3 separate regions of the Homo sapiens genome follow, and all the other regions are linked to region 2. Evidence: fine-mapped expression QTL. A gene starts in region 2. Each other region holds a variant in brackets. All regions are shown on one strand. Distances are between the middles of the regions. Region 1 overlaps BBS4 (Bardet-Biedl syndrome 4). Region 2 holds the start of BBS4 (Bardet-Biedl syndrome 4). Region 3 overlaps ADPGK (ADP dependent glucokinase).

What was found. PIP is the estimated chance that this variant, and not a neighbour inherited with it, causes the effect. A credible set is the group of variants that fine-mapping cannot tell apart.
Region 1: its variant is the best candidate, but not a certain one, in a credible set for the expression of BBS4 in stomach (GTEx, PIP 0.72).
Region 3: its variant is the best candidate, but not a certain one, in a credible set for the expression of BBS4 in whole blood (TOPMed, PIP 0.83).

What each region holds. Positions count from the first base shown.
Region 1 is chr15:72,702,290-72,712,038 of GRCh38, forward strand. It overlaps BBS4 (Bardet-Biedl syndrome 4), which reads left to right. Exons shown (of 16, transcript NM_033028.5): 3 at 7,411-7,490. Among named protein-coding and RNA genes, the nearest start is that of BBS4, 21 kb to the left of the region's middle. RefSeq lists a silencer at 4,095-4,295. The variant T/C (reference allele first, on the strand shown) is at 6,684.
Region 2 is chr15:72,680,076-72,690,193 of GRCh38, forward strand. BBS4 (Bardet-Biedl syndrome 4) reads left to right here and starts at 6,132. Exons shown (of 16, transcript NM_033028.5): 1 at 6,132-6,176. The coding sequence starts at 6,153. HIGD2B (HIG1 hypoxia inducible domain family member 2B) reads right to left here and starts at 6,107. Exons shown (of 3, transcript NM_001350932.3): 1 at 5,743-6,107; 2 at 1-118.
Region 3 is chr15:72,750,418-72,760,535 of GRCh38, forward strand. It overlaps ADPGK (ADP dependent glucokinase), which reads right to left. Exons shown (of 7, transcript NM_001365225.1): 4 at 9,990-10,110; 5 at 5,834-6,030; 6 at 5,139-5,237; 7 at 877-2,478. The coding sequence ends at 1,924. Among named protein-coding and RNA genes, the nearest start is that of ADPGK-AS1, 27 kb to the right of the region's middle. The variant C/T (reference allele first, on the strand shown) is at 7,464.

The sequences.
Region 1 (9,749 bases), 22 kb after region 2:
TCTTCCATTAACTACTTGTTGAATGTGGACAATTTACTTAACCTTTAGGGCCTTAATTTCCTCCTTTATAATGTGAGAATGTTCTCTGAATTGCATAACTCACTGGCCTTACGTGACTATTCAGTGGAATAATAAGAGAGAAAAACTTTGAGATACATGCACACACACCCTTAAGAAGGATATAATTGTTAAATTTTGCTTTGAGGAAATAAAATAATCTAAGCTATAAAGTAAAACCATAATTAGCTAATCTTTTATATGACTTTTTTCTTCCTCATTTCAAGCTAATGAGAAGCAAACAAACTGGATAGCAGCAATATAATTAAAAAATTATAGGCCAGCTTCTAGCATGTATTCTTGAGTCAATACTGACTCAGCCCAGTCTCTTCCTCTTCCTTCATCATCATTTATGTACCTGAACAGAGTAGATGTTTCTCTTGATCCTGGGCCTGTTCGCCCTCAGATCCATTCCTTGCCTTCTCTTCTCTTTTTGGTATAGTGAGGAGCTGACTCTTTTTTTTTTTTTTTTTTTTTTTGAGACGGAGTCTCGCTCTGTCGCCCAGGCTGGAGTGCAGTGGCGGGATCTCGGCTCACTGCAAGCTCCGCCTTCCGGGTTCACGCCATTCTCCTGCCTCAGCCTCCCAAGTAGCTGGGACTACAGGCGCCCGCCACTACGCCCGGCTAATTTTTTTTGTATTTTTAGTAGAGACGGGGTTTCACCTTTTTTTAGCCGGGATGGTCTCGATCTCCTGACCTCGTGATCCGCCCGCCTCGGCCTCCCAAAGTGCTGGGATTACAGGCGTGAGCCATCGCGCCCGGCCGAGGAGCTGACTCTTGCAGCCTCCTTTTCTTCCCAGGCTTCCGTGTCAGCAGTTTCTGGCTGGATTAGCAAGTGGAGGAACTGGCAGGAGATTAGAAGGCAAGAGGAAAGAGAAGACAGGGCTTCCCTCCCCGACCTTCAGGCCTCAGAGTCGTAGTGGTTTTTTGCTCATGCAGACTTCTGATTTGTCTCACCATTCCCTGTTGGGCCTCTCATTTCTTCCATTGCCTGTTCTCTGCATTAAAGTCCTTGTGTTTCAAATCCTCAAGTGGCTTTTTGTTAGGCTTTGACTGATACAGGGCTCAAAATGATAGTAATGAAAATGTCTTACATTTATATTCTTTTCAAGATTTGTTATCTCTTTTGATACCCCAAATATCCTATTGAGGTAGAAAAGTGTTATAATTCCTGTTTGGCATGAGGAAATTAACATTTATTGAATGACTATTTTCAGATTCTTTGGATTTTCGGGTGAAAATTTTAGGGGGGATAAATGGAGGCCCAGAGAAGTGAAATAACTTGCCCTAGGCCCCATAGAAGGCTGGTATTGAATCAAGATTGAAATTCTGCATGTGAAAACTTTTACGTGCTACATGTCTGCTAGTCCTGGAAGAAATCCTTTCTTTGATGAGTATTTTTTTTAAAGGCTTTACTTGCAATATATTTACAAAAGCCTTAGTTATTTAGTAAATTTTTCAATGAAAAATCTGAACCATAATAATTTTCTGCTTAGTACTTATATAGCTAGCATACTATCCCTAGCATTAATCAAAGTGTCATGTAAAGGTTTGATTTTTGAGCCTAAGCAGAATTTGAAATTCTTCTAAGAGAATTTAGCACCTAGGGCAAACTACAGGGGAGAATTCTTGAGGTGTCATGTTTATTCACTTCTGGAATTGTTTAAAATATGTCAGGTGCATCCTTAAAGGGAGAAAGAAGGGGGAAGAGATGTTACAAAAGAGTAGAATGGGGCAAGAGAAGTGGCAAGGGAGTATTGTTGCTAGGTTGCCAGCCTTCTGCCCCCACTGTCTTGGTGATGGTGGAGGGGTAGTGTGGCAGCTGGGATATGAATGAGGTCTTTTTTATAACTCACTAAAAGCCATTACCTTGTCTTCATCTCGTCAGCTGGCTACCTGACCTCTGTGGTAACATAGGCTCCTGAAATGTAGCATTGGAGATGATCACTGTGCTTTATTGCAAAATAGGGGAGACTCTGCTCTGCATTTACATGCTTATGTTTTGTGGAGGATCTTTCAACTAGTAATTCTCATAATACCTGTGAAAGCATATAAGAACCAGTATCTCCATTTTTAGGGGGAGTTGGAGTGAGCAATGATTTGGAATACCAGAAATTCAACTTATATATTTACAGGTAAAATTCTAATTGTAAATTCAGGATTCATAGATTCTAGGGATTTCTGAGGTATCCAGAATTCCTTCATCTTTGATGATAAGTAGATAATAATGGTAATAAAAATAACAGCAACAGGCCCAGCACAGTGACCCACACCTGTAATCCCAGCACTTTGGGAGACTGAGGCAGGTGGATCACTTGAGGTCAGGAGTTCAAGACCAGCCTGGCGGACATGGCAAAACCCCATTTCTACTAAAAATGCAAAAATTAGCTGAGCATAGTGGCATGTGCCTGTAATCCCAGCTACTCAGTAGGCTGAGTCATAAGAATCATTTGAATCTGGGAGGTGGAGATTGCGGTGAGCTAAGATCGCGCCACTGCACTCCGGCCTTTATGACAGAACTCGACTCCATCTCAAAAAAACAAAACAAAACAAAACAAAACAAAAACAAAATGCAAAAAAACAGCAACAATAATAGGTAACATTTCTTTAAGGCCTACTATGTACCAGGCACTATTTGAACCTCTTTATATATTAGGTAATACGATACAACTCTATGAGAATGAGTATTTTATTTCCTGACCCTTCTATTTAAAAGTAAAACCCCCCACCCGGCACTGTTTCTCTTTCCTGCTTTATTTTTCTCCATAGAAAAATATCACTCATAAGTGTAACATACTTTATTATCTGTCCTGTGTGGTAGTAGCCCCTGCCCTCAATTATAAACTCCATGAAATCAGGGAGTCAGTTTTGTTCACTGCTGTATTCCCAGTGCCTAGAACAGTGCCTGGAATCATGGTAGGTACCCAGCGAATATTGGTTGAATGAATGAGTCTTGGTTTTACAGATGAGGAAACTATAAATTTCCCAGGTCACACATTTGGTAATAGGACAGTTGTGTACACTGAAATGTTCTCTAAAATATTTGATGGAACGAAAATTAGCTTTTGGACAGCTACATCTCCAAGAGTGTGAAATGACCTTCAGCACTGGATTTGGTGGATTTTCCTTTTTCTAATCCCTAGAGTTCCATTTAATGAGCGTTTGGGTTCTTGAGCTACCTTACAAATTGAACACTTTTTTCTCCAGCTTTCACTCAAGAAACACAAAACATGGCTTGTCCTTTTTTTTTTTTTTTTTTTTTTTGAGACTGGGTCTCACTCTGTCACCCAGGTTGGAGTGCAGTGCACAATCATGGTTCATTGCAACCTCTGCCTCCCAGGCTCAAGCAATCCTCCTAACTCAGCCTCCTGAGTAGCTGGGACTACAGGCTTGTGCCTCCACTCCTGGCTAATTTTTTTGTATTTTTTGTAGAGATGGGGTTTGTCCAGGCTGGCCTTGAAGTGCTGGACTCAAGTGATCCGTCCACCTGGGCCTCCCAAAGTGCTGGGGTTACAGGCGTAAACCACTATAGCTAGCCCTGATTGTCTTTTATTGTGAGATTTTAATAACAGCTAAGACTTGAAAATTAACATTTTATAAATTTTCTTTTAGACTACTTAGTGATATACTAAGTATCTAAGGTTTGTAATACTTAGTATAAACTCAAAAGGGTTCAGTGCCTCATTCTCTTTTACTCTTTCCCTTTAGTAGATAGGTGACAGAGGACTGGGTCATGCAGTTGAGACTTGGTCCAAGATGACTTAGTAAGCTACTTGTCCCAGAACTATTTATTTATTTACTTATTTTTGAGATGGAGTCTCGCTCTGTCGCCCAGGCTGGAGTGCAGTGGTGTGATCTTGGCTCACTGCAACCCCCGTCTCCTGGGTTCAAGCGATTCTTTTGCCTCAGCCTCCCGAGTAGCTGGGATTATAGGTGCCCGCCACCACTCCCGGCTAATTTTTTGTATTTTTAGTAGAGACTTGGTTTCATTGTGTTAGCCAGGATTGTTTCGATCTCCTGACCTCATGATCCACCTGCGTGGACCTCCCAAAATGCTAGGATTACAGGCGTGAGTCACCACCCCCGGACCCTGGAACTATTTATGACGGTGCACTTTATGCACTTAACACACTCACATGTCTTTAAGCTTGGTGACTCGTGTGGCTTTTTCGAAGGAGATTTGATTCTGGAAGTGGTTAAGTAGGATGTGAATGGCTAAGGTCTGGTCATTGGTGAAGCCTAGGGGAAGAAAAGAAAGGAAACACAAGTCTTAGAAGAATTTCAGATCGGCCCCAACGACTAGAAGGGTGGTTCTACTAAGAAAATGTGTGTAGTCAGAAAATGAAGAGTCAGTTGCTTAAAATTTTACTTTTTTTCTTGTTCCTGGCATGTAAAGTCATATCCATACTTTCTGTTATAATTTCTTCTTACAAATTCCATTGATAATCCCTATTCTTGGATAGCAATGAGCAGCATTACTTCTTTTTTATTTTTTTAAAAAAATTAAATTTTTTGTTGAAATGAGGGTCCTGCTGTATTGCCCAGGCTGGTATCAAATTTCTGGGCTCAACTGATCCTCCTGCCTCAGCCTCCCAAAGCGCTGGGATTACAGTTGTGAGCCAGTGTGTCTGGTTGTACCTTTTAATTTTTGTGTTCAGGCAACATTAACTCTGAGTCACAGTAAGCTTTTTTTTTCTTCCTGTCATATTATGGACATAGAAGTTTTTTGGTTTTCTTTAGATTGTTTCTCCTTAGGTTGCAGAACATCAAGAAATGGATTACAGTCATTTTCCTCTCTTCCCCATGCTCTTCCCTTTCTTTTCCTTTTTTCTTTTCTTTTTTTTTTTTTGGAGACAGAATCTTGCTCTTTGGCCGAGGCTGGAGTACAGTGTCATGATCTTGGCTCACTGTAACCTCCCCGCACCAGGTTCAAGTGATTCTGGTGCCCAAGCCTCCCTAGTAGCTGGGATGTCAGGATGCGCCACCACACCCTGCTAATTTTTGTATTTTTTTGTAGAGATGGGGTTTCACCATGTTGTCCAGGCTGACCTCAAACTCCTGGACTCAAATGATCTGCCCTCCTCGGTCTCCCAAAGTGCTGGGATTATAGGCATGAGCCACCACATCTGGCCTCTTTTCCATTTTTAAAAAGGACTGTCTCCAACATATTAAAATTCACAAAAAATAATATAAACACACATGTACTCACTGGCTAGGCTTAATAAAAAACATTTAGTCATGTTTACTTTAAAGCTTTTTATTTTTTTGAGAAATAGGCATTAAAGAGTTGAAGTCTCCTTTCTGTCTTTTCATAATTCTGTTCTTCCCTCTTCCTTCCTTGAGATCTTCACTATTCTTGGGTTAATTTGGATCTTTCTACTCCTTGTTACCACAGAAAAGTAATTCTTAATGAATTTGACCATATTTTAAACTTCTGATTTCAGTGGGCAGGTAACTCATTTTATGGTTTCTGTATTGTGAGCCATTTTCAATGACTCAACTAGATTTTTTTCATCGTTGACTTCTCATTTCTGGGCAACAGCATAATGTTCTCATTTGAGCTATTTCTAAAGATTGTGTTTAACTATTTAAAATATTTGTGGTACTCTGATCATCAGATGTGATTTTTTTTTTTTTTTGAGACGGAGTCTCACTCTTTCACCAGGCTGGAGTGCAGTGGCGCGATCTCGGCTCACTGTAACCTCCTTCTCCCAGGTTCAAGTGATGCTCCTGCCTCAGCCTCCCAAGTAGCTGGGACTATTGGTGCGGGTTACCACACCCGGCTAATTTTTTGTATTTTTAGTAGAGACAGGGTTTCACCATGTTTGCTAGGATGGTCTCGATCTTCTGACCTCGTGATCTGCCTGCCTTGGCCTCCCAAAGTGCTGGGATTACAGGCGTGAGCCACTGCACCTGGCCAGAAGTGATATTAACTATCTTATATGTATATTTCTGTTGCGGGAAGTCAGGGGCCCCAAACGGAGGGACCGGCTGGAGCTGTGGCAGAGGAACGTAAATTGTGATTATTTCATGGACACTTACCAGTTCCCAAATAATATTCTTATAATTTCTTACACCTGTCTTTAATCTCTTAATCCTGTTATCTTCGTAAGCTGAGGATGTACCTCACCTCAGGGCCACTATGATAATTGTGTTAACTGTACAAATTGATTGTAAAACGTGTGTTTGAACAATATGAAATCAGTGCACCTTGAACAGAATAACAGCAATTTTAGGGAACAAGGGAAGACAACCATAAGGTCTGACTGCCTGTGGGGTTGGGCAAAATAGAGCCATATTTTTCTTCTTTGCAGAGAGCCTATAAACGGACATGCAAGTAGGGAAGATATCGCTAAATTCTTTTCCTAGCAAGGAATTTTAATAATACTCTGGAGAAGGAATGCATTCCTTGGAGGAGGTCTATAGGGCATGTCTGTCTTATGCTGTTGACATAAGGACTGAAATACACCCTGGTCTCCTGCAGTACCCTCAGGCTTATTAGGGTGGGGAAAAAACCCCACCCTGGTAAATTTGAGGTCAGATCAGTTTTCTGCTCTCAAACCCTGTTTTCTGTTGTTTAAGATGTTTATCAAGACAATTTGTGCACCGCTGAACATAGACTCTTA[T/C]CAGTAATTTTGCTTTTGCCTTTTGCCTTGTGATCTTTGTTGGACCCTTATCAGGAGTTTCTGATTTTGCCCTTGTCCTGTTTCCTCAGAAGCATGTGATCTTTGTTCTCCTTTTTGCCCTTTGAGGCATGTGATCTTTGTGACCTACTCACTGTTCTTAGGCCCCCTCCCCTTTTGAAATCCTTAATAAACACTTGCTTATTTTGCAGCTCAGGTGGGCATCACGGTCCTACCGATATATGTGAGGCCCAGCTGTGAAATTCCTCTCTTCGTACTCTTATTTCTTAGCCGGCTGACGCTTATAGAAAATAGAAAGAACCTACATTGAAATATTGGGGGCAGGTTCCCCTGATATATTTCCTTAGTGACATTCCTGCAATCTCCTTTAGAAAGTCTTTCTGTTCACCTTCTATAACCAGGGAAGGAGAGATTGAGAAGAGACGAAGGATGATTTTATGTTTTTCAGTCCCAGTCATTATTTGATGAGAAACTGATATTACAAGCTTTAAAAACTCAAGATATGTATTCAACATGTAGTAGTAGAACAAGTATCTTAGTTTAATAGTCTATAAATTTTTGATGCACTATAATATATTATTGTAGTCAGTAGCATCAAAATTTTAATGTGATATTGCAGTATGTTTATGGTTAGTTTAGACATGAGGACAGTGCTAAAGGAGAAAATCTAATGACTGTGTTGTTTGTTTTGTCAAAATATGCTGCCTAGCTCCAGAGTTTCCTATTTTGGAGAAGCAGAACTGGTTGATTCATCTTCATTATATCCGGAAAGATTATGAAGCCTGCAAGGTAAGAGATTGCCATAATAATAAAAATGAGAGGCAGGATGTTGGGTAGGCAACTAACAGTGCCTGCTAAACAGAGTGTGGCAGTTTATATCTCAGTGATAAAACATGAATTCCTTCTTCCCCATACTTCATACACTGGTTATCTTTTGCTATGGTAGTGATGTTTAACATACAACCTCAATATTTCAGTGGCCCCCAACAAACAAATATTAATTGCTCATGGGCTTTCAGATCAGCTGTGGGTTGGCTGGGTTTGACTGCAGGCTGTGGGTCAGGTTTAGGTGTGTTCCATGTGTCTTCTCATGTCAAGAGCAAACAACTCTCTTGGACATGTTGGTCTTCTGGTGGAGGCAGATGTTCAACTCAGCATATTAACTTTTTTATCTTTGGATAGATGAAAAATGGTATTTTGTCGAGTTTTTTTTTTTTTTTTTTTTTTTTTGAGATGGAGTCTCACTGTCACCTAGGCTGGAGTGCAGTGGCATGATCTTGGCTCATTGCAGCCTTTGTCTCCCAGGTTCAAGCAATTCTTCTGCCTCAGCCTCCCCAGTAGATGGGACTACAGATGAGTGTCACCATGCCCAGCTAATTTTTTGTATTTTTAGTAGAGATGGGGTTTCACCATATTGGCCAGGCTGGTCTCGAACTCCTGACCTTGTGATCTGCCCGCCTTGGCCTCCCAAAGTGCTGGGATTACAGGCGTGAGCCACCGTGCCCAGCCCTGAGTTTTATTTTTTAATTTCTCTCTTACTGCAAGGTTGATCATCATGTGTATATTTAAAAACCATTTGTATTTCCCTTTCTCTGTATCTTTGGTGACATACCATATGTGTTACAAACTTGCAGGCAGACAGTGGTAGTACTAACATGCAGAATGTATCCTTGGTGTCATCTTTTTTGGTATCCAGAGCTTTGTGACCCATCTAAGGTTTTTAATTTATACCCATGGCATTTATACCTATGGCAATGCACAGAACTAATTCATACTGGTATGACAAAGATTCATACCAGTTTTTTTTTTTCTTTTTTTAAGTGGAGTTTTGCTCTTATTGCCCAGGCTAGAGTGCAGTGGCGCAATCTCGGCTCACTGCAACCCCCGCTTTCCAGTTTCAAGCAATTCTCCTGCCTCAGCCTCCCAAGTCGCTGGGATTACAGGTGCCCGCCACCATGCCCAGCTAATTTTTTTTTTTTTTTTTGTATTTCTAGTAGAGGTGGAGTTTCACCATGTTGGTCAGGCTGGTCTCAAACTGCTGACCTCGTAATCCACCTGCCTCAGCCTCCCAAAGTGCTGGGATTACAGGCGTGAGCCACCGCACCCGGCCCATACCAGTTTTTTTTGACACCGCTGATCCGAAGGCAGATACCAGTATGAATCTTTTTTTTTTTGAGATGGAGTTTTGCTCTTGTCGCCAAGGGTGGAGTGCAATGGCGTGACCTCGGCTCACCACAACCTCCGCCTCCTGGGTTCAAGCGATTGTCCTGCCTCAGCCTCCTGAGTAGCTGGGATTACAGGCATGTGCCACCACGCCTGGCTAATTTTTTGTGTTTTTAGTAGAGATGGGGTTTTTCCATGTTGGTCAGGCTGGTCTCAAACTCCCGACCTCAGGTGATCTGCCCGCTTCGGCCACCCAAAGTGCTGGGATTACATGCGTGAGCCACCGCGCCTGGCCACCAGTATGAATCTTGAAAGGTTCTCTTTCTTTTTCATCTGTGATAATACTTGGAAATCTTATCACACTTTTCTTAGCTTGCCTAGTTAGATTTTAGACAGGGGTTGGCAAACTTTTTCTGTAATGGGCCAACAATATTTTAGGGTTTGTAGGCCACATACAGTCTCTACATCATATTTGTTATCTTATTTTTTATAACCCTTTAGAAATAAAAAAACCACTGTTAGCTTGAGAGCTGTACAAAAATATACAGGGCCTGTAAGCCCTGTAGTTTGCAAATCCCTGTTCTAGAAGAAGTAATCACAACAAGGGAGTTGAAATTTTAAGAAACTGAATGAACTAATACTTTACTAGGCATTATTAATACTCTAGGTTTTTTTACATATGATTCTTGTCCACGTCTGCTTTTTCATTACTATTTGTTTTCTTTTTTTTTTCAGACAGAGTCTCACTCTGTTGCCCAGGCTGGAGTGCAGTGGCGCTATCTTGGCTCACTGCAACCTCCGCCTCCTGGGTTCAAGCGATTCTCCTTCCTCAGCCTCCTGAGTAGCTGGGATTACAGACACGCACCACTACTGCCCGGCTAATTT
Region 2 (10,118 bases):
TTCCCTGCTTTTGCCTGGGCAAAATAGTCCATCAACCAAAGTTTAGGTTTTCTGATCTTCTTCCCATTCTTACCCAGCTGGTGGAGTCTACAGCCTATTTCAGGTTTGACCTCAGTAGCTAGAGGAAAAGTGGTTAAACAAAATAAAGAAGTTAGAAGCTGATTTACCTTTAAAAATAACAAACTTAAGTTCTTGTCTACAGTAAGTTTTATGGATCAAAAACTATTCTGACTTCTTATCTCAACAGATATCCTACACATATCTCACATCAGCATATATATATGCCTTTTAGAAAATTCTGTTATTAAAACTCGAAGGAAAAATGAGATCATGAATAAACTGAACATTTTTAAAAAATTATCTTTCATAACTTTTCAATCTAATATCTGTGTATTATAATCATTTATTGTTTCATGTACTAATTCATCTATGTATTTACCAATCAATAAATATAATCTGATATGCACTATGATAAATGAGGTCAAAAAAAAAGGAGATACCCTGATCCACACAGGATATAAAGATGAAGGGCTGGGTGCGTTGGCTCACGCCTGTAATTCCAGCACTTTGGGAGGCTGAGGTGGGCAGACCACCTGAGCTCAGGAGTTCAAGACCAGCCAGGCAAACATGGCAAAAACCTGTCTCTACTAAAAATACAAAAAATTAGCTGGCCGTGGTGGCAGATGCCTGTAATTCCAGCTACTCAGGAGGCTGAGCCTGAGGCACGAGAATTGCCTGAACTCAGGTGGTGGAGGTTGCAGTGAGATCGTGCACTCCAGCCTGGGTGACAGAGTGAAATTCTGTCTCAAAAAAAAACAAAAGTGCTGTATTGAGGACTGAGACCTGAGATAGTGAGAGACAGGGATGTACAACTTGAGTCATACTGTGGACTGACAGGATGGGAATAGCTAAGGGACTGTCTGAGGTGGGGATGCCTGTCTGGTTCACTTGTTACTGCCTTGTTTATGTGACTTAGATAGTACTTAGCTTCCGCTGTTGATACTCAGTGGGAGATACACCTAAACCACACAGACAGCATTATTCTGAAAAGGAGAAGTTGCCAGGGAGTGTGGACCAGTAGTCTCCGTGGCCCTGTACTCTCCAAGCAGAAGTGTAGACTTCTTCTTCCCTGTGACTAGCCTTCAGGTGTAATTTCCAGTACATAGTTCCTTATAAATTCTATAGCTCAGGAGAATAAATAAGAGGCTCCTTTTCCAGAAAATCCAGTATTGGTTTTCCTCCTTTGGAGGCGTAGAGTCAGAACTCTCATGGCATGGCAGGATCCATGGAGGTGGCCACATCTCCCTTTTTTCAGTGAGTATTAGATCCCACAAGACAACCGCACAGCTAAACATAATTAAAACTTAGGTTTTATGATATTTGTTCCTTTCCTAAAACCTTCAGTGACTCCTTATTATCCATAGGGAACATATAAGCTAAATAAATGTGAACTTTTTTCTCCAAGCAAAACATTCTCCCCAGTGAATAGAAAATCTTGTTTTCCTGTGTTACCTTGAACCAAAATTTTTTTTTTTTTTTTTTTTTTGAGGCAAAGTCTTGCTCTGTCGCCCAGGCTGGAGTGCAGTGGTGGCGCGATCTCATCTCACTGCAACCTCCACCTCCCGGGTTCAAGTGATTCTCCTGCCTCAGCCTCCCGAGTAGCTGGGATTACAGGCGCCTGCCACCACACCTTGCTAATTTTTGTATTTTTAGTAGACATGAGGTTTTGCCAGGTTGGCCAGGCTGGTCTCAAACTCCGGACCTGAAGGGATCCATCTGCCTACCTTGGCCTCTCAAAGTGCTGGGATTACAGGCATGAGCCACCGCACTTGGACTCCTTTAAAATTATTATTATTATTGAGACAGAGTTTCGTGCTGTTGCCCAGGCAGGAGTGTGGCACTACCTTGATTATAGACGCAAGTCACTGGGCCTTGGGATTATAGACGCGAGTCACTGGGCCCAGCTTTCTTTCCAGTTTTAAAGTATTATTTTTAATTATCCAAACTAAATGTGTAGTAAATACTCTTCTTATAAATCTTTGTTTTCTTGATTGCTTCCTTAGCATATAATTTCAGAAATAGAACTGATCAAAGGGTATGCACATTTTTAAGGATTTATAATGCCAGATGCCTTCCAAAAGATGTTAACAACTTATTGAACTGACAGTATATAAGGGTGCTATAGAGTAATTTATTTATTTGAAAAACAAATCTTTATTGTGTAGAAATATGTATTTTAAAAATCCCCCAGAAAAGATGCTCTTCTCTCATTTCCCCATCCTCTTCCTTTTCTTCCACACCTCTGATATGAAGGACATTATTATACCTTATTAAAACTTCATCCACACTAGGCATGGTGGCTCATGCCTGTAATCCTGGCATTTTGGGAGGCCAAGGCAGGCAGATCACTTGAGGTCAGGAGTTTGAGACCAGCCTGGCCAACATGGTGAAATCCTGTCTCTACTAAAAATACAACAATTAGCCAGGTGTGGTGGCTGACGCTTGTAATCCCAGCTACTTGGGAGGCCAAGGCACGAGAATCACTTGAACCTGGAGGTTGCAGTGAGCTGAGATCGCACCACTGCACTCCAGCCTGGGTGATAGAGCGAGACTCTGTCTAAAAATAAGATAAAATAAAATAAAATGAAAACTTCATCCAGATGTCTAGACAACACTTTAACTATGTATTCTTCTGTATTTGCAAGTTACATGTTCATATAGCCATCTACAGATACCAGTTAGCCTTTGTAATCCATTCCCCACTTAAGTTTCACCATCTACTGGCTTTTCTGTTAATCCCTTGAGGAAAGGTTTGGAATTGAGGAGTAAATCCTTTATAAGGAGAATGCTGCAGTCTATTCGCTATTCACCGCTGACCAAGCTGCCACCTGGCCCTCCTGACTGCAGCAGGCACCCCCAGACAGTCATGTAAATGGACTAGGCCTGAGTCTGTAGTTCTTTGCTCTGAAAAAGGAGACGTAATGGCTTCTACTTTTTATCATTTGGTGGAAATAATAGAGGAGTTTTTCTAGAATGTTTTTTGATCTGGTGGTTAAAGGGAACTTGGACATTTAGTCCCTGAAATAAATTGTTGCATCTTTGAAGGAAAAGATGAAAGTAGTTTCTTACACTTTAGTGAAGAAGCCTTTGGAAAATTTTGTTCTGGATGTTGTATATTCTCTGTAGAGGAGTGTTGGGGATTCCCCACATCAGCAGAACTAAAGGGTAACTGAAGAGAACAGGGAGTGACATGTCAGATTGAGAATCAGTCTTTTGAAAGTGGCAAAAAGAATATGTGTTAAAAGAAAAAATAGGGTAGAAGATAAAAAGAATAGGGCAGAAGATATTAGCTTCAATTCCTCCTTTTTTTTTTTTTTTTTTGATCCTTTGGAATGATTTCTTCCTAGACTGCCAGTGTTGCGTAGTAACCCCGCCCATGAAGAGGACTGGAATACTGAAAAACTGCATGAAACTAAGCGCTGTGGGTTGGGCGGGGTGGCTCACGCCTGTAATTCCACACTTTGGGAGGCCAAGTTGGCTGGATTGCTTGAGCTCAGGAGCTTGAGACCAGCCTAGGTAACATGATGAAACCCCATCTTTACAAAAGATACAAAAATTAGCTGGGTGTGGTGGCATGAAGCTGTAGTCCCAGCTACTCAGGAGGCTGAGGTGGGAGGATCACTTGAGCCTGGGAGGTAGAGGCTGCAGTGAGCCGTGATTGTCCCACTGCACTTCCGCCTGGGCAACAGAGCGAGATCCTGTCCCAAAAACAAAAAAACTAAGCACTGTGGATTAGAAATTAATAATTTTTCATCTTTATATCTTTTTTTTTTTTTTTGAGACAGTCTTGCTCTGTCTCCCAGGCTGGAGTGCAGTGGCACGATCTCGGCTCACTTAGGCAAGGTGTTTAATTAATCTCTGAAAAGTGGAGAATTTAGCACCAGGCATGGTGACTGGTGCCTGTAATCCTAGCTACTTGAGAGGATGAGGTGGAAGTGTTAAAGGTGGAGGGTGTCCAGGTTCTTGGTGTCTTGAAAAAAGAATTGGACAAAATGCACAAACAAAGCAAGGAAGGGACAAGGAATTTACTGAACATGAAAGTACACTCCAGTGTGGGAGCGGGCCTGAGCTTAGAAGTTCAGTGGCTCCGTTACAGAATTTTGGGGAGTTTAAATAACCCCAGAGGATTCCATGGTTACTTCGGGTATGCCTTATGTAAATAGAGAAGATGAAGTAAAGTTACAAAGACATTTATGGCCTATGCCCTATGGACAGAATATTACCTGTTATAGCTGAAGTGTGAATTGGCCTTATGTTCCCTACCTCCAGACCCTATTTTCCTGCCTCAGGAGGATTACTTGAGCCTAGGAGTTCAAGTCCAGTCTGGACATCAATAGTGAGACCCCTGCCTCTGAAAAAAAATTTTTTTGAGACAGAGTTTTGCTCTTGTTGCCCAGGCTGGAGTGCAATGGGATGATCTCAGCTCACTGTAACTTCCACCTCCTGGATTCAAGCAATTCTCCTGCCTCAGCTTCCCTAGTAGCTGGGATTACAGGAGCCGGCCACCACGCCCGGATAATTTTTTGTATTTTTAGTAGAGACAGGGTTACACCATGTTGGCCAGGCTGGTCTTGAACTCCTGACCTCAGGTGATCTGCCCACCTCAGCCTCACAAAGTCCTGGGATTACAGGCGTGAGCCACCGAGCCCAGCAAATTTTTGTTTTTTAGACGGAGTCTCCCTCTATCGCCCAGGCTGGAGCACAGAAATGCGATCTCGGCTCACTGCAACCTCTGCCGCTTGGGTTCAAGTGATTCTCCTGACTCAGCCTCCCGAGTAGCTGCGATTACAGGCGGGCACCACCATGCCCGACTAATTTTTTGTATTTTTAGTAGAGACGGGGTTTCACCATGCTGGCCAAGCTGGAAAATTTTATTTTTAATAAATGAAAGGCAGAGTATTTATCTGAAAAAAGTGGGAGACCAACAGTCTCATGGGATTGTTATAAAGATTAAAAGAGAGAGTGTTACTGAAATACTTAGAAGAGCTGTTATTCTATTGCTGTCCTTTCCCCTTGTATTTGGATAGATTACCGTACTTGTTTCTTCTATGTAACTCTAATTGTCAGTGGGGTTCTCCCTCTCTTAGAGGCCTGGAGAAACTTGTCTTAAATGCTTTCCCAGTTAATGAATTGGGAGAGGCAGATTTTATGTCTAAATTACAAGGGCGAGACTTAAAAGTATGAATTGGGGCTAATGTCAGTGCTCAGGTGCAGGGATCCTCCGTTTTGTTCATCACACAGCTCCCGGCACTTTAATAAATGAGGCTCAAAGAAACGACGGGCTTAGGTCATGCAGTAGTCAAATTCAGAACTCATGTTTGATTCCAAAGCCCACACGTTTTCCTAGTTTAGAAACACTAAACATTTAATTCACCGCACCGGGGGCCAGACAGGTAATGGAGAACGCCTTAAGTATGTTAGGAAGGGAAGTTATCTACAGTCGCAGCCGCTATTCAGATCTATTTCACTGCCTTGCAGAAAACGCCGACTGTCGTCTCTTTATCCCATGGCCGATTTCTTGTGAAATCTCCTAACTTTTAAATATTTCCAATCAAAAGACTGCCGTTCAAATGCAGCCCACCAGGAGCATGTTTGCAAACTCTGGAGTAAACAAGAGTGGGAAGCTGATAAGGTGAGTACCTCAGTTCGATAGTGACAGCCAAGAAACGGGGAGTTTTGTACCTAAGGCGAGAAAGAAATTCTCCGCCGAAATCTCCCGGAAGAAGGACTGAATTAAATGCAGATTAGAGTCAGGGCAGGGTAAGGTGGCGGGAGAACTAGGCTGCCATCCCAGGTGGCTGGCCTACCAGCCAGCGCGGCCGGAGGTACAGACCATGTACAGACCACGGCGAGGGGTGTTAGGGGCTTCTCGGGATAAAGGCAGCGAGTGGCTGCGCATTCCCTCCCCGACTCTTTCAGAGGTAAGCCTTCTGTGGAGCAGACCCTAATCCTCCCCCTGATTCCTTAGGTCACTCGGCGATTTACTTCCTTCCCCCGCTTCCTCACAGTCCTCCACAGCCCTACGACTTCCGCTTGCCTCGTCGTCTGGGAAACCGCCGACTTCCGGCCGCGCAGCGGTGGGCTGAGCTAAAATGGCTGAGGAGAGAGTCGCGACGGTGAGCGCCGAGATTCTCTTTAGTTGCCCGGCCGCAGGGCAAGGCAAGCTGGCGGGTGGCTTTTGTCCCATGCAGCGGTTCCTGGAGAGAGGCGGAGCTGGGTGCCGAGCGTCTCAGGGTGGGCGGGGCGACACGGTCCCCTTTTTACTGTCCCGGGAACTGGTCGCCTGGGGCAAGTCTGGATACTTAGCAGCACAGGTCCTGTTCTAGGACTGTAGTCCCTCTTGGGGTGCGCTGGACGGAGAAGGGAGACTTTTCACCAGTAATGGCTCTTACCGTAGTGCCATCTTTTTCTGTCTCGGGGGTTTGGAAGGTAATGACTAGCACTTGTGTAGACAGTTCCTGTTAATCCCGTGAATTGGGAATTTAACATGCCTGGAAGCTTGCAGCGTCACTGCCTTCTGCCAGTGGAGCGGGACTGTGTTTTTTCTGTGGTGATTAAGTTTAGGAAAGTACGGTTTTGGAATTCATCTGAAGGCTGAGTTGGGCGTTCACTCCACAGAACTGCTAATATAGAGGAACCCGATGAATTCAGGATGACCTAGTCGCTATTTTTTGAGGCATATATCTATAATTGGATCTAATTTCGGTAAAGTGCCAAGTGTGAAGCTTTGTTTACCTTGCTTTAGTGTTGGGTTTGAAAGCCTGTTCTGTCCATTTGTTAGAATGATTTTAGGTATTCGGAATTTATTGTCTTTCGAAAAACGCCCTGGAAAACAGTACAAATAGCAGCCTTTGGCTGTTTTACAACTTAGTTTTGGCTAAGCAGCAAGGTTAGTGTTATTGTTAGAGGGCCTTTTGTTTGTTTTCTACTCTCATTTGCAGAGTAGTCATATTATTCTAGTCTAATTAGAAAACTCTGAAGACAGAAACTTTTTTTTTTGAGACGGAGTGTCGCTGTTGTCGGCCCGGGCTGGAGTGCAATGGCGCGATCTCGGCTCACTGCAACCTCCGCCTCCCAGGTTCCAGCAATTCTCCTGCCTCAGCCTCCGGATTAGCTGAGAATACAGGCGCCTGCCACCACGCCCGGCCGAAACATTTTTATTAAGCTAAGAAATTTAAAATAGCTAGGCCGGACGCGGTGCATCACGCCTGTAATCCCAGCACTTTGGGAGGCCGAGACGGGTGGATCACTTGAGGTCATGAGTTTGAGACCATCCTGGCCAACATGGTGAAACCCCGTCTCTACTAAAAATACAAAAATTAGCGGGGCATCGTGGCGCTCGCCTGTAATCCCAGGTACCTGGAAGGCTGAGGCAGGAGAATCGCTTGAACCCCGGAGGCGGAGGTTGCAGTGAGCCGAGATCATGCCATTGCACTCCAGCATGAGCGACAGAGACAGACTCCTTCTCAAAAAAAAAGAAAGAAAAAACAGATTTTAAAATAATTAAATAGGCCAGGCTCAGTGGCTCACGCCTGTAATCCTAGCACCTTGGGAGGCTGAGGTGGGTGGATCGCCTGAGGTCAGGAGTTCGAGACCAGCCTGGCCAACGTAGTGAAACCCTGTCCCTACTAAAAAAATACAAAAAATTAGCTGGACGTGGTGGCGGGCGCTGGTAATCCCAGCTACTAGGGAGGCTGAGGCAGGAGAATCGCTTAGAACCCAGGAGGCAGAGGTTGCAGTGAGCCGAGATCGTGCCATTTCACTGCAGCCTGGGCATCCAGAGCAAAACTCCGTCTCAGAAAAAAAAAAAAAGTAAATAGCATGGTTAATGTTACTGGGTTTTAAATATTAAAAACATAGGAAAGAAAATACTTCCACTCCAGCCTGGGTGACAGAGCAAGACTCCGTCTCAAAAAAAAAAAAAAAAAAAAAAAGAAAATACTTCTAAGTAATCTTAAAGTGTAAAAGATAATGGGTAACATAACATTGCTACAAATATAGCTTATCCTCTAGTGCTCATCACAAGTGTTTGTGTAATAGAATATGAACTTGAGTCTGTGACGGCAGAATTGTCATGTACATTTGAATGTCTAATACTGTTTTAAAGAGAATAGCTTTTGTTTCGATATGACTTAGCAATTAAGCCTGAAGTTAACTGTTTTCATTGTTGTCAAATTTATTGCTAGTAGTGTTACGTTTATAGTAATTTTCATCTTTTCAAGTTACCAATGCATGGAAATGTGAATTTCTGTCCTTTTAGGAAGTGGTATTTTATCTTTTTTTTTTTTTTTTTTTTGAGACGGAGTCTCACTTTGTCGCCCTGTCTGGAGTGCAGTGGCGTGATCTCAGCTCAGTGGAACCTCTGCCTCCCGGGTTCAAGTGATTTTTCTGCCTCAGCCTCCCGAGTAGCTGGGGTTACAGGCCCTCACCACCATGCCTGGCTTATTTTTGTGGAGATGGGGTTTCACCACGTTGGCCAGGCTGGTCTTGAACTCCTGACCTTGTGATCTGCACGCCTCGGTCTCCCAAAGTGTTGGGATTACAGGCGTGAGCCATGGCCCCCTGCCTTATTTTTTAATACAATTAAAAGAACCCAGTAATCCTACTCCTAGACCTGTGTCCCACAGAAAAAAGTGTTAAACATGAGCGTGTAGTACTAGGGCATTCGTTGTAGTACTATCCGTAGTGGCAAAACGCTGGAAGCAAATTAAATGCCCATTAATAGGGTAATTGATGACTTCAGATATTTCCATACTGTGGAATATTATGCAGTCATTAAAAAGAATGTTACAACTAATTGCTTTTCCTCTCAGAAGCCCCTCTCTCTCACTAGAGAAAGCTGTTCTCCTTTCTTTCTTCTGCCTATTAAACCTCCATTCCTAAACTCAGAAAGAAAAAAAAAAAAAGAGAATGTTACGACTAATTGACTTGGAGGGACTTCCATGGTGTACATTTAAATAAAAGGTAGATGTGAAGTGGGGTATATTATGTGATCTTAATTTCATAACACAAAGGAAAACATATAGATCCGTAGATAAGGATATATGGATATGGAGGAGAGAAAAGGAAAAGACTCAAAACTCACAGAATTTTTGAAGAAATGTATAGCTAAAAATCTAAGAAGGCTACAGTCAAGGCCTTGAGGCCAGAAGACACCCCATCAAAACTGAGTAAAACTAGCCCAGTGTGGGACGCAGAAATTCTAGTATGCTACCAAAATTACTTACGGATTGCTACCAGTTCCTTAGAAGGAAAACTGAGGACTAATATTTGTATTTTCAGTATAGTTTAGAATTCTTAAAAAATGAGCAAACAGGCTGTACTTGGTGGCTCATGCCTGTAATGCCAGGACTTGTGGAAACTGAGGTGAGAGGATAACTTGAGTCCAGAGGTTTGAGACCAGTCTGGGCAACATGTTGGAGCCCCATTTCTACAAAAAACACAAAAATTAGCCAGACGTGGTGGCACGCGCCTGTCTTCCCAGCTACTGGGGAGGATCATCTGAGCCTGGGGGAAGTTGAGGCTCCAGTGAGCCATGATCATGCCACTGGACTCCAGCAGGGGCAGAGTGAGACTTTGTCTGAAAAAAACAAAAAATGAATGAGCAACTAACTCTGGCTTTCATGATTTGTGCTTATAAATCTTTTTATTTATTTATTTATTTATTTATTTATTTATTTATTTATTTATTTTGAGACGGAGTCTTGCTCTGTCGCCCAGGCTGGAGCGCAGTGGCGCGATCTCGGCTCACTGCAACCTCCGCCTCCCGGGTTCACGCCATTCTCCAGCCTGAGCCTCCGGAGTAGCTGGGACTACAGGCGCCTGCCACCACGCCCAGCTAATTTTTTGTATTTTTAGTAGAGACGGGGTTTCACCGTGTTAGCCAGGATGGTTTCAATCTCCTGACCTTGTGATCCGCCCGACTCAGCCTCCCAAAGTGCTGGGATTACAGGCGAGCCACTGTACCCAGCCTATAAATTTTTTTTATAATGCCCTGATTCCCATTATTTGATGTATTTGGATAAATATGTCATCCTGTAAATTGAAGGATTAAACTG
Region 3 (10,118 bases), 70 kb after region 2:
GTATGTATGTTTAAATCTATATACACTTAGACAGTCAATGACATTTTATAAAACAATGCTTACTTATACTTACCCTTATAATGTATGATGTTTTTATACTTTTTGTGATAACCACCAAATGGATTTAGTAGCTATTAGTTCAAGATCCATTATTTGAAAAACACTGCTCTAGGGTATGTGTAGTCTATACTCCCTGAACTAGTCTTTACTGGCATCACCAATCAAAAAATGGAGAACGAGTTAAGAATACACACTCAGGACCAGGGGCTTAGTCAACTTAGACATTAGAAAAGATCATGTGAACACTTCAGGACTCCTAATAAAGTCTTCTTAGGTTTAGAATATAAATATTTCAATTCTTGAGAAAACAAAAATTTCATGTGAGCCTTTCTAATAAAAATAGGCTAGAAGGTTGGTGGTTATTTTTAACTTATCTGGGAAACAGAAGGAAGAGGTAGCAGCCAGAGATTTCCTTAATTTAAGCCTAGAATGCAGCTTTGAGTTACAAGCTGCATTCTAGGCTTAAATTTACTTTGAAGGAGTAATCAAGCTTTCTTATCCAAAGCAGGGAAAGGGAGGTCATAAATGAAGAGCTTGAGGTAGCTTTGAGATTCCAGAAGCTGCTGTGGGCCCAGGGGAAATGAAGACCCCTGAACTAGGCAGGCCCACCACCAGCTGCCATGTTCATACTGCCCTCCCAACAAGCTGAAAAGGCTCACCATGCTCTCAAACTGCTATGCTCCAATTCAGCTTTAACTGGGCTACTTCATACTAGTACTTTGTGTCACTTTCAACCCCACAGGACAAGCCTATAGCTCAGGCTCAGCATGAGGGACTGCAAGCACCTCAAGAGCAAAGTAACATGCACATCACAAATGAAGATCAGAATGATTTTTATCTTATCTGGTTCCAGAGTGGTGATGGAGACAAAAATCAATTACAGACAGAATTCCTGAAATGTAAATTGTTTTTAATATATTTAAGAGCACACAGAAGTCTTGATTTATAAAAAAATAAATATATAACATGACAAATTTACTGATGATCCTGGAGCTCTGAGGTCAAACTCTTTAAATGATCAGTGAAAACATAAAACATCCATGATCTGTTAACACACACAGGAGCATATTCCAGTTGTAAAAAACAAATTCCTTGAAGGCTCAGAACGAACAAAAATCAGTCTTTATGGCAGAAAGCACATCCAAAGCTAGGCAATGAAGTTCAGCCTGGGCCACGTGAACCTTTCACCAGCCAGCCTATAACCTATGGAGCCAGGACAGGAAAGCATGATCCTTCAGCTCATGACGCCACCCAGGCTTCCAGACAACTGCAGAATGAAAGAGTCCCTCAGAGGCTCCCCAGCCCCTGCTGCCATCATAAAGCACGGGAGGGATTGTTTTGTCCTTAGCGGCTCTGTCCTAAATTTGAGAGCAGGAGACTGAGAAGGTTATGCTCATTAAATATTGTCATTGTAACACGGAATGGAAATCATGATCCTTGCCCATGGGCACTGAGCTGAAAGAAAGAGGAACCTCACATGAGGCTTTCCTAGAGACCAGGATGTTGGGTGAGTGGGCGTGCACTTCTCAAGTGGGCAAGGAAGAACTGCTTTTCTCCAGCTGACATGCTCTCAGGGGTGAAGAAGTTTAGCTTAAAATACCTGATGGCGCTGCATAAACTGGGGATTTGGGAACTGAGTTTTTAGCTCTGTGACACACAACATAAAAAACAAAAATCCAGTCTCATTAGCTAAATTCGGATTAAAATCTGAAATGTTTTTATGGAGTTGCCAACAGGCTGGAATGTACCTGATACAGTTTAATCTGCTTTTATTTCTTTGGCTGTCTTCCAAACCACTTTCTTCCTGTAATTCTTAAGTTGGCTAGTTCTCCTTCCTCAGAAAAATTACCCCTAAGAATCTTCCTAATAGTGAGGGTGTACTTCCGAATAGAAGAGTCCTTCGGCTGAAATGGCATCTCCAAGGCCTACAGTTCGAATGGGGTCTTTACACACCAATACTGGTGTGAAGTGGAAGGATATTCCCTCTCTGTGCCATTCTACTACTGGCTTGTTTGGGTTTAATACAATCCTGGAGCCTGCCTCCGAATGGGAAGTCATGAACTCTTGGGGTGCCCTCAGAGACACTCGGCTGGTGTCTATGGTTTCTGTGGCGCAGGCCTGTGTCCCAGCCACACGAGCTCCTGCAGCCACGGCTGCCAGCTGGTTGGCCCAGTGTCCATCCACAGTTGCCAGGATGTGGTAGACCAGCGTGTGGAAATGGATCCTGGTGAGATCCGAGGCTCTGCTTTTACTCCTCCCATGTTCTTTCAAGATCCAGAAGAGGATGTCACTGACCATGCCCACATCAGGAACACCGTTCCAGGAAGAGAGAGAAGAGTGAGGTCCAGAGGCTGACTGGGTGAGAAATAACAGCTCCTGTTCATTCAGCCCAAGGGAAGTCACCGCGGGAAAGACCTGCTAACAAAAACAACAACAGGTATCTTTCTGATGGAGATAACCTGGCTCCTAAGATGTCTTATGACACAGCCAGTGACTAAATGACAGGGAACACAGGCAGGCAGCTTTCTTCCTTGATACAGGACTCCCTGGCCCTGAAGTCACTGTTTTAGCTATCACACCCCTATCTTCACCTTCATCATCATTTGGGAGAAACTGGAAAGCTGCAGTAACATTGTTTCAGATGCAGTCTTTTGTGATATGCCACTGTAAGACAAAAGGCAGAGGTGTCTATATTTTGTGTTTCTTTCCATGGTCCCTAGCTTTTGCCACTGCACACATAGGAGATACTCTTACCACTGATGGGGCATGGCTCTCAGTTCCTGAATGTCAGCAGTATTAGACCAGTAAAATGGAGACCTCAAGCAACATACTGTCAGGGTTATAATGATTTTTTTTATACAAAACACCAAGAAGCAAAAAGCATACAGTTTCATGTTAGAGCTAAGCTTTTTAAAAGCAGGTGTGGGTTAGGAAGACTGTCTGAATTTAGCAATAACACTGTAAGAAAAAGATTACCAAACAGGTGCCCGTGTTTTCTGTCTGATGGGGAACCACAATATCCACCTCCCTGTCTTTCTTACTTAGCACTTCCCTCCTTAGAACCAGAGAACCACACTTAAGGTAACAATTTTTGCAGGAGAGAGGAGTCCTTGTATGTATGTGTGCATGTATAAAATGGTTTTAAAAATTTAATGGCCTACATCTTTGTTGGAGCAATAGCAGCTTTCCTTCACTGCATGTTCTTCTGTGTCAGGCACTGAGCTAAAGGCTTTATTTCATCCAATTCTTACTGTAATCTTCTGAGGGAAGGAGGGACTGCCTCCATTGTACAGACTAAGCCTCAGAAGGGTTAAGTAGACAGTTACAGAGAAAATGAAATAGAAATGGCTCATTTTTTTAAAGGTGAGAAGAAAAACCCAAACAAAAGCTATACTGAAAAACACCAAGAGTGAACCCAAGTGTAAACTATGGACTTTGGGTGCTGATGACGTGCCTGTGTAGGCTCACTAGCTTAACAAATGTACCACTCTGGTGCAGGCTGCTGGTAGTTGGGGAGGCTTGTGTGTGAGGGGACTGGAAGTATATGGGAACTCTCTTGGATTCTGCTCTATTTTGCTATGCACCTAATATTACCATAAAAAAAAAATGAAGTCTATCAAAAAAAAAAAAAACAAAACCAACGACAGTCAGCCCTCCATATCCATGGCTTCAACCAACTTCAGATGGAAAACAGAGTATTCAAGGATGTGGAACCTGCAGATAGGGAGGGCCAACTTGTCTAATCCACAGATTCCACAGGGCCAACTGCAGGACTTAACCATCTGCAGATTCTAGTATCTGGGAAGGGTTCTGGAACCGCCCCCGCCGCCCCACACACCGCTGATGACGAGGGATGACTGTATACTGAAATACCATTTTTTCATCTGTCAGACTGATATAAATGCAAATTTTAACATTCTGGTAGCAAGGATATGAGGGAACAAGTATTTGTAATTATTGCCAGTGGGAAGTAAACTGGTATAATTCTTATGGAGGGCAATCTGGCAATCTCAAAATTACAAGTGCTTTTTTATGCTCCAGTCCAGCTGTTCTACTTCTGAGACTTTCTCCTAAATATGGACTTGTTCACAGGCAAAACAAAATCATGTATCAAGTTGTTCACTGCAGCACTGTGTGTAACAGCAAAGGGCAGTAAATAACCAATATGTCCATCCAGAAGGTTCAGGTTAAGTAAACGGAGGTACATCTACACATTCATTTTAACCATATGGCTATGAAAAGACAGAGGATACTCTCCATGTTAGTGATGCAGGAAGATCTCCAAGATATATTTAGTGAAAAAAAGAGCAAAGTGAAGAACAGAGTATTCAGTAGGCTATGCTATCTTTTTGGGTAAAAAGGGATGGAAAACAAAATCAGGATATATTTCTGTATTTTCTTATACTTGTACAAAAGAACTCTGGAAATAAACTGATGAAGGGTGCAAGTAGGGAAGGGGAGGAAGTAGAAGGGAGACTTCATTGTATATCTTTTCATAGTTTTTGGGTATTTTTTAACCAAATGAATATATTACCAATTAAAATTAGGTAACACTAGATTGCCAGGTGAGGTAACTTGCCTGAGTTCATGAAGCCCGTGAGTGCAAGGCTGGCATGCGAACCCAGGTCTCCAGAGCTTGTGTTCTGAAGCTTCACCTGCTCAGATTTATACTAGTCAATGCTGCTGCCCAGAGGCAGGCACTGAACACCCAGATGCCTGAGGAAGGAGGGAGGTTCCCTCAAAGTTTCTTTGCTTTGAGCTTCTTGAAGTTCAACTGAAAGCAGCTGAGCTGGGCTTTCAGTTTTTTCCATTCACTTTCAACTTTTCCATTCCAGAGGAGAAATATGATCAACAATCTGTCAGTTACACTGCCATAACTTTAACCTAGTAGGAGATACTGCTGTTTCAGAACAGTCCTGGATCCTTATTTGGATCTCCATGGACTTGGGTCTGAGTGACACAAACCTACATGTCAGTGAGCCAGTCCCTGAGCCCAAACAGATGGTCCCACTGCACAAAAAAGCTTCTCTGCAAGGCTCTATGAGGATCAGGGCCAAACGATGGTCCCATGAGGTTACCTGATGGACAATGCTGCTCATGAGCTCCCTGTTAGTCATACTGGCCAGCTCTAGGTGAACTGGAATACCAGTGGGGATGTCAGAAATGGAGGTTACAACCTGCAAAGAGAAGAAGATAAGCACTGCCATTAGAAATAGAAGGAAGTCAAGAAAGAGGGAAGAAAAGATCAGATCCTGAGAGGCGGTTCCTCCTGGTAATGGCCTTCTTTGCATGCTCACGGGAGCTACAAGCAATGTGGGTCCCCACCACCTCTGTGGACAAGGGACACTCTTCCCACCAGGGAAGACTAGGCTGTGCAGAGCCATCAGGGATACAGAATCAGAGATGGCAGTTCACTTCGACTGCTGTACGAATCTGTAGGAGTTGCAGCATAGCTGATGTGAAGTGAGATGATACAAATAACACAAAGGACACAAACTACAAACCCTGCAGCTTGCAGCCATGGTCGGTTTAGCACAGGATGCAGAGGCTCAGGCAAGAAGATGTTCTGCCCTGTCCTACTCAAGCTGCTGCCCACATCTGAAGGGATACAGTGAGGTGCCTCACTGCAGCAGGAGGCAAGCTCCACAGCCAGCTGCCAAGATATGTCCCTGGGAGGCCAGGACCTAAGACAAGGCAGCAGATGCCAAGAGAGGCTGGAACCTGAAGAAAACCACCAGCTGAGATCTGTGAAATTCTGTAACAGTGCCATTACCTCCAAGAGTCTCTTCCTCTGGAGCTCCTTGCTTTGTCCCTCCATCATGTGCAATCCAGAGAGGACCACCAGGTCTGGCTGAAACTCCTCCAGGCTAGACACAAACACCTCCAGCATATTCATGGCCCCGTTGGAGAGGTCGTGAGAGAAGATGAATCGGTTGGCATGGGGAGCTTTTAACTGGCCCCACTCCTCCCCTGGAAAAACCCAGTCAACACAATGGGAAGAAAAGGAAGAGGCTTTAGGTCTCCTAGCTGTGGGGGCACTTTCAGGCACCTCACAGGAGCCTTGGCTCCAAGCAGGCTGGTTTCTGGCTGAGGAGACCCCAGCAACAATGGCCTAAGGTCAGCATGGCACTGCAAGAAACAAACCAAAAACCTAAACCCAAACCCAGCCAAGAAACAGAAACATAGTATGGGTGCTATATGCCTTTTTCAAGGTAATTAGCTCCCCCTGAGTCCCAGGAGAGCCCTACTTGAGCTCTCAAACACAGGAGAGACAGTACAGAATGGCAGCATGACTTCCAAATACCAGCATACAGTGTGCAGCACGCACGCCCTGCAGACAGTATAGGCTGTCATTGTTTAAAGCACATTCTTCCTCACAGCATTGCCCTGAGCATCTTTCATTCAGTTGGAACTTAAGCAGGCTGAATTTCTTCCCAACAGCCAAGCTCACTGCATCTCCTCTTCCCTGCTGCCCATCAGTGGTTTCTGGGCACCTGATCCAAAGGATCAGACTATCTAGCTGCTCCAGTTGCTTCTATGTGAGTTGCTTTAGAGGAATGACTGTTTAAAGACCCAAGTTCAAGTGCTAGTTCCTCCCTAAACATGAAGCCTTTCCTAATCCTACCACCCCTAAGCAGACTTGATTACCTCCTTTCTGGGGCCACCACTGTACCCTAATACAGGACTGAGGCACATGATTTTGCAATTCCTTTTTCTTTTTTCCTTTTTTTTTTTTTTTTTTCTTCTGAGATGGAGTTTCACTCTGTTGCCCAGGTTGGAGCGCAATGGCGCGACCTCAGCTCACTGCAACCTCTGCCTCCCAGGTTCAAGCGATTCTCCTGCCTCAGCCTCCCGAGTAGCTGGGATTACAGGTACCCGCCACCACGCCTGGCTAATTTTTGTATTTTCAGTAGAGACGGAGTTTCACCATGTTGGCCAGGCTGGTCTTAAACTCCTGACCTCAGGTGATCTGCCTGCCTTAGCCTCCCAAAGTGCTGGGATTACAGGCGTGAGCCACCATGCCCGGCCTGCAATTACTTTTTCCAAGTGTCTATCTCTGGCAGTAAACTGTGAGCTGAGGGCAGGGCCTGTGTCATCCTCTGTCGTATTCCTTCTGCATCATGCTGTGTCTGGCATATAGCCATGGGAATGAATTAACAAAAGAACAAGCAAATAAGAGAACAGACTGATGACCTAAATGCCCATGACAACAAAAAATATGGGTATGAACCCCAAATCCAACATTTTGCAAATCAACAAAGACTCTGTACGATGGGAAAAATACATTACATTGACATTCTCCAGAGAGCAAGACGTGGACTCAACCCTTGAATAGTGACACTGCTAGGAAACACGACCTAACTGAACCTAGGAGAAAGGAGCCACACTGTATTGAAAATACA[C/T]TGATTTCTTCAGGAAGTGACAGAGGCAAAAATAAACAGGCTCTTCTGCAAGGCAAGGATGAGAAGAACCGTGCAGAGCTGCTTGCTGTTTCCACAGGAAACAAGGCAGCAGATGCCAAGAGAGGCTGGAACCTGAAGAAAACCACCAGCTGAGATCTGTGAAATTCTGTAACAGTGCCATTACCTCCAAGAGTCTCTTCCTCTGGAGCTCCTTGCTTTGTCCCTCCATCATGTGCAATCCAGAAAGGACCACCAGGTCTGGCTGAAACTCCTCCAGGCTAGACACAAACACCTCCAGCATATTCATGGCCCCGTTGGAGAGGCCATGCAGGGGGCAGATGCAAATGGATCTAATTCTGCCTGTAATGGTAGTTAGCGCCCCTCTTTCCTCACAAAGTGTTGTATTCATTCCTGTAAGCAATCTCTTCTCAATGTATCATCCTGCCCTCAGCCAGTAAGTCAGCAAAACCTCTGCGTAGTGACTCACTGGATTCCCAGCCCAAGCCTGACAATGGGCTTCTCTGGGGAGATCTGGTAAGAGAGAATGTGGAAAAAAAAATGGACAAATCCCTTGGAATTTCCCTATTGAGGTCAGAGACAAGCTGGGAATGGATTTCTGTTGAGAGAGCTGAGCCCAGGGCTACTGCCACTAGACTAGGCTCCCTCCTTGGACCTAGGAAAATGTCACCTCACAAAGTTTAATGGAAGTCCACTGCTTTGTATGCAGAAGAGGCATAGGAAAGAAAAACTGAAGTGTGAAGCTTATAAACCCAAGGATGGAGACACTCTCTTTGTGCGGTGAACTGTGCTGTCTCCTTAACTACATACGAGGCACAGCTGTCCAATACAACATCAAAGTCTTGCTGAAGACGTAAGACTCTCCACTCTGTAGTCACCAGGAAAAATGACAAACCAGGAATCACAAAGGTCCCCAGTTCCTGCTGTGGGTGCCAAAAAAACTGACACGAATCTGGAACTCATGGCAGCAATACCTCAGGGGCTCATCTTTAGCAATTCCAGACCCTTCCAGTCCACAGTCAGGTCATTCTTTTATTTATTTATTATTATTATTTTTTGAGACGGAGTCTCGCTCTGTTGCCCAGACTGGAGTGCAGTGGTGCAATCTCAGTTCACTGCAACCTCCGCCTCCCAGGCTCAAGCAATTCTCTGCCTCAGCCTACTGAGTAGCTGGGATTATAGGCGCCCGCCTCCACACCTGGCTAATTTTTGTATTTTTAGTAGAGACGGGGTTTCACCATCTTGGCCAGGCTGGTCTTGAACTCCTGACCTTGTGATCCACCCGCTTCAGCCTCACAAAGTTCTGGGATTACAGGCATGAGCCACCACGTGCGGCCAGGTCATCTTTTCATCCAAGCTGCTCACAATGTTTCCGCACACCAACCAATCTCTTAATCCTTACCACAATGATCAGGCAGTAAAAACTATTACTCTTACTTCCCATTTGGGAAAACTAAAGCTGAGAAACTCAAAAACTTGTGTAGCATTAAGTATGAATTGCCTACGTCAACGCTGTGTCCCTAATTTTCAGACCCTATCCTTCTTTAATTCCCAACTGATTCTAGTAAGCACCCGAAAGAGAACCAGAACATGTTACAACTCTTTTTTCTACCTGGAGAAAGGCATAATTCTCAAGAAATAACATAGTTCATATCTTATGTTAAAGTTAATTACTCTAGTAGAGAAGATTCTCTTAATTGACTTGGAAGTAGTTCACTGAAGAGTATTAAGTGCTGCTTTAAGGTACCAATTAGTCTGTTTAGATGCTTGAGTCTTTAATGTGTATTAACAATGTGTTGAATCAGAAACTCAAGAGTCTGAGTTCTGAGCAGAGGGAAAATTACAGCAGGAAATACACAGGATCAAAGTATGTCCAAGTATTTAATATTCTCTCAGAAACCAGATGCCTAATCTACGTAACATATAAAATCTGCTGGGAAGAGGGGATGGGATGCAGTGGATGTGGATTTATTAACATTAGAACATCTGATGGGAAACAATATAGTGATGTTAAATACAAAACACTTCCATTCACACACCCAAGGAAAAATAAAATGCTCCAGAGAAACTTGCCAGAAGCTTGGAATCAACCCCAAGCAGCTTGGAAGAGTCAGTCAGAAAGGCCTAGGGCAGAATCCAGCACAGAGTTGAATGGATGCTACCTGCCTTTCTCTTGTCTTAGTCATAAAGGAAAACTTTATATATGTGTGTTTAACACGTTTTCACTTTTATTTGAGATGCTTGCTTTCCTATGACCTGATTTATCTTGGGTTCGGAGCAATTCTGCTTGTAGACCTGGGAATTTTCTTCCATGTTATAATACTCAGTCTCCCTTGAGACAACGGCCAGTATCAGCTCAGTAGAACCAATAGGTCAGGAAACTTTCAGTATGGCAAAAACAGGATCCTGCTAATTTACAAAGATAAATTTCCGGCACAGTCACACCCCAATCTGACAATACACAGCCCCTTGACTGGTCTTGCCACCATTACTTACTCATTTCCTTACCTGCTTGATACTCTAAAATGAGGTGGAACTCATCCACTTCCTGCAATGACTCTGGTGGAACAAAGACATTGTCATCAAGAAGCTCATGTAGCTTTGGACCAACTGGACCGCAAAGAAGAACCTGGAGGC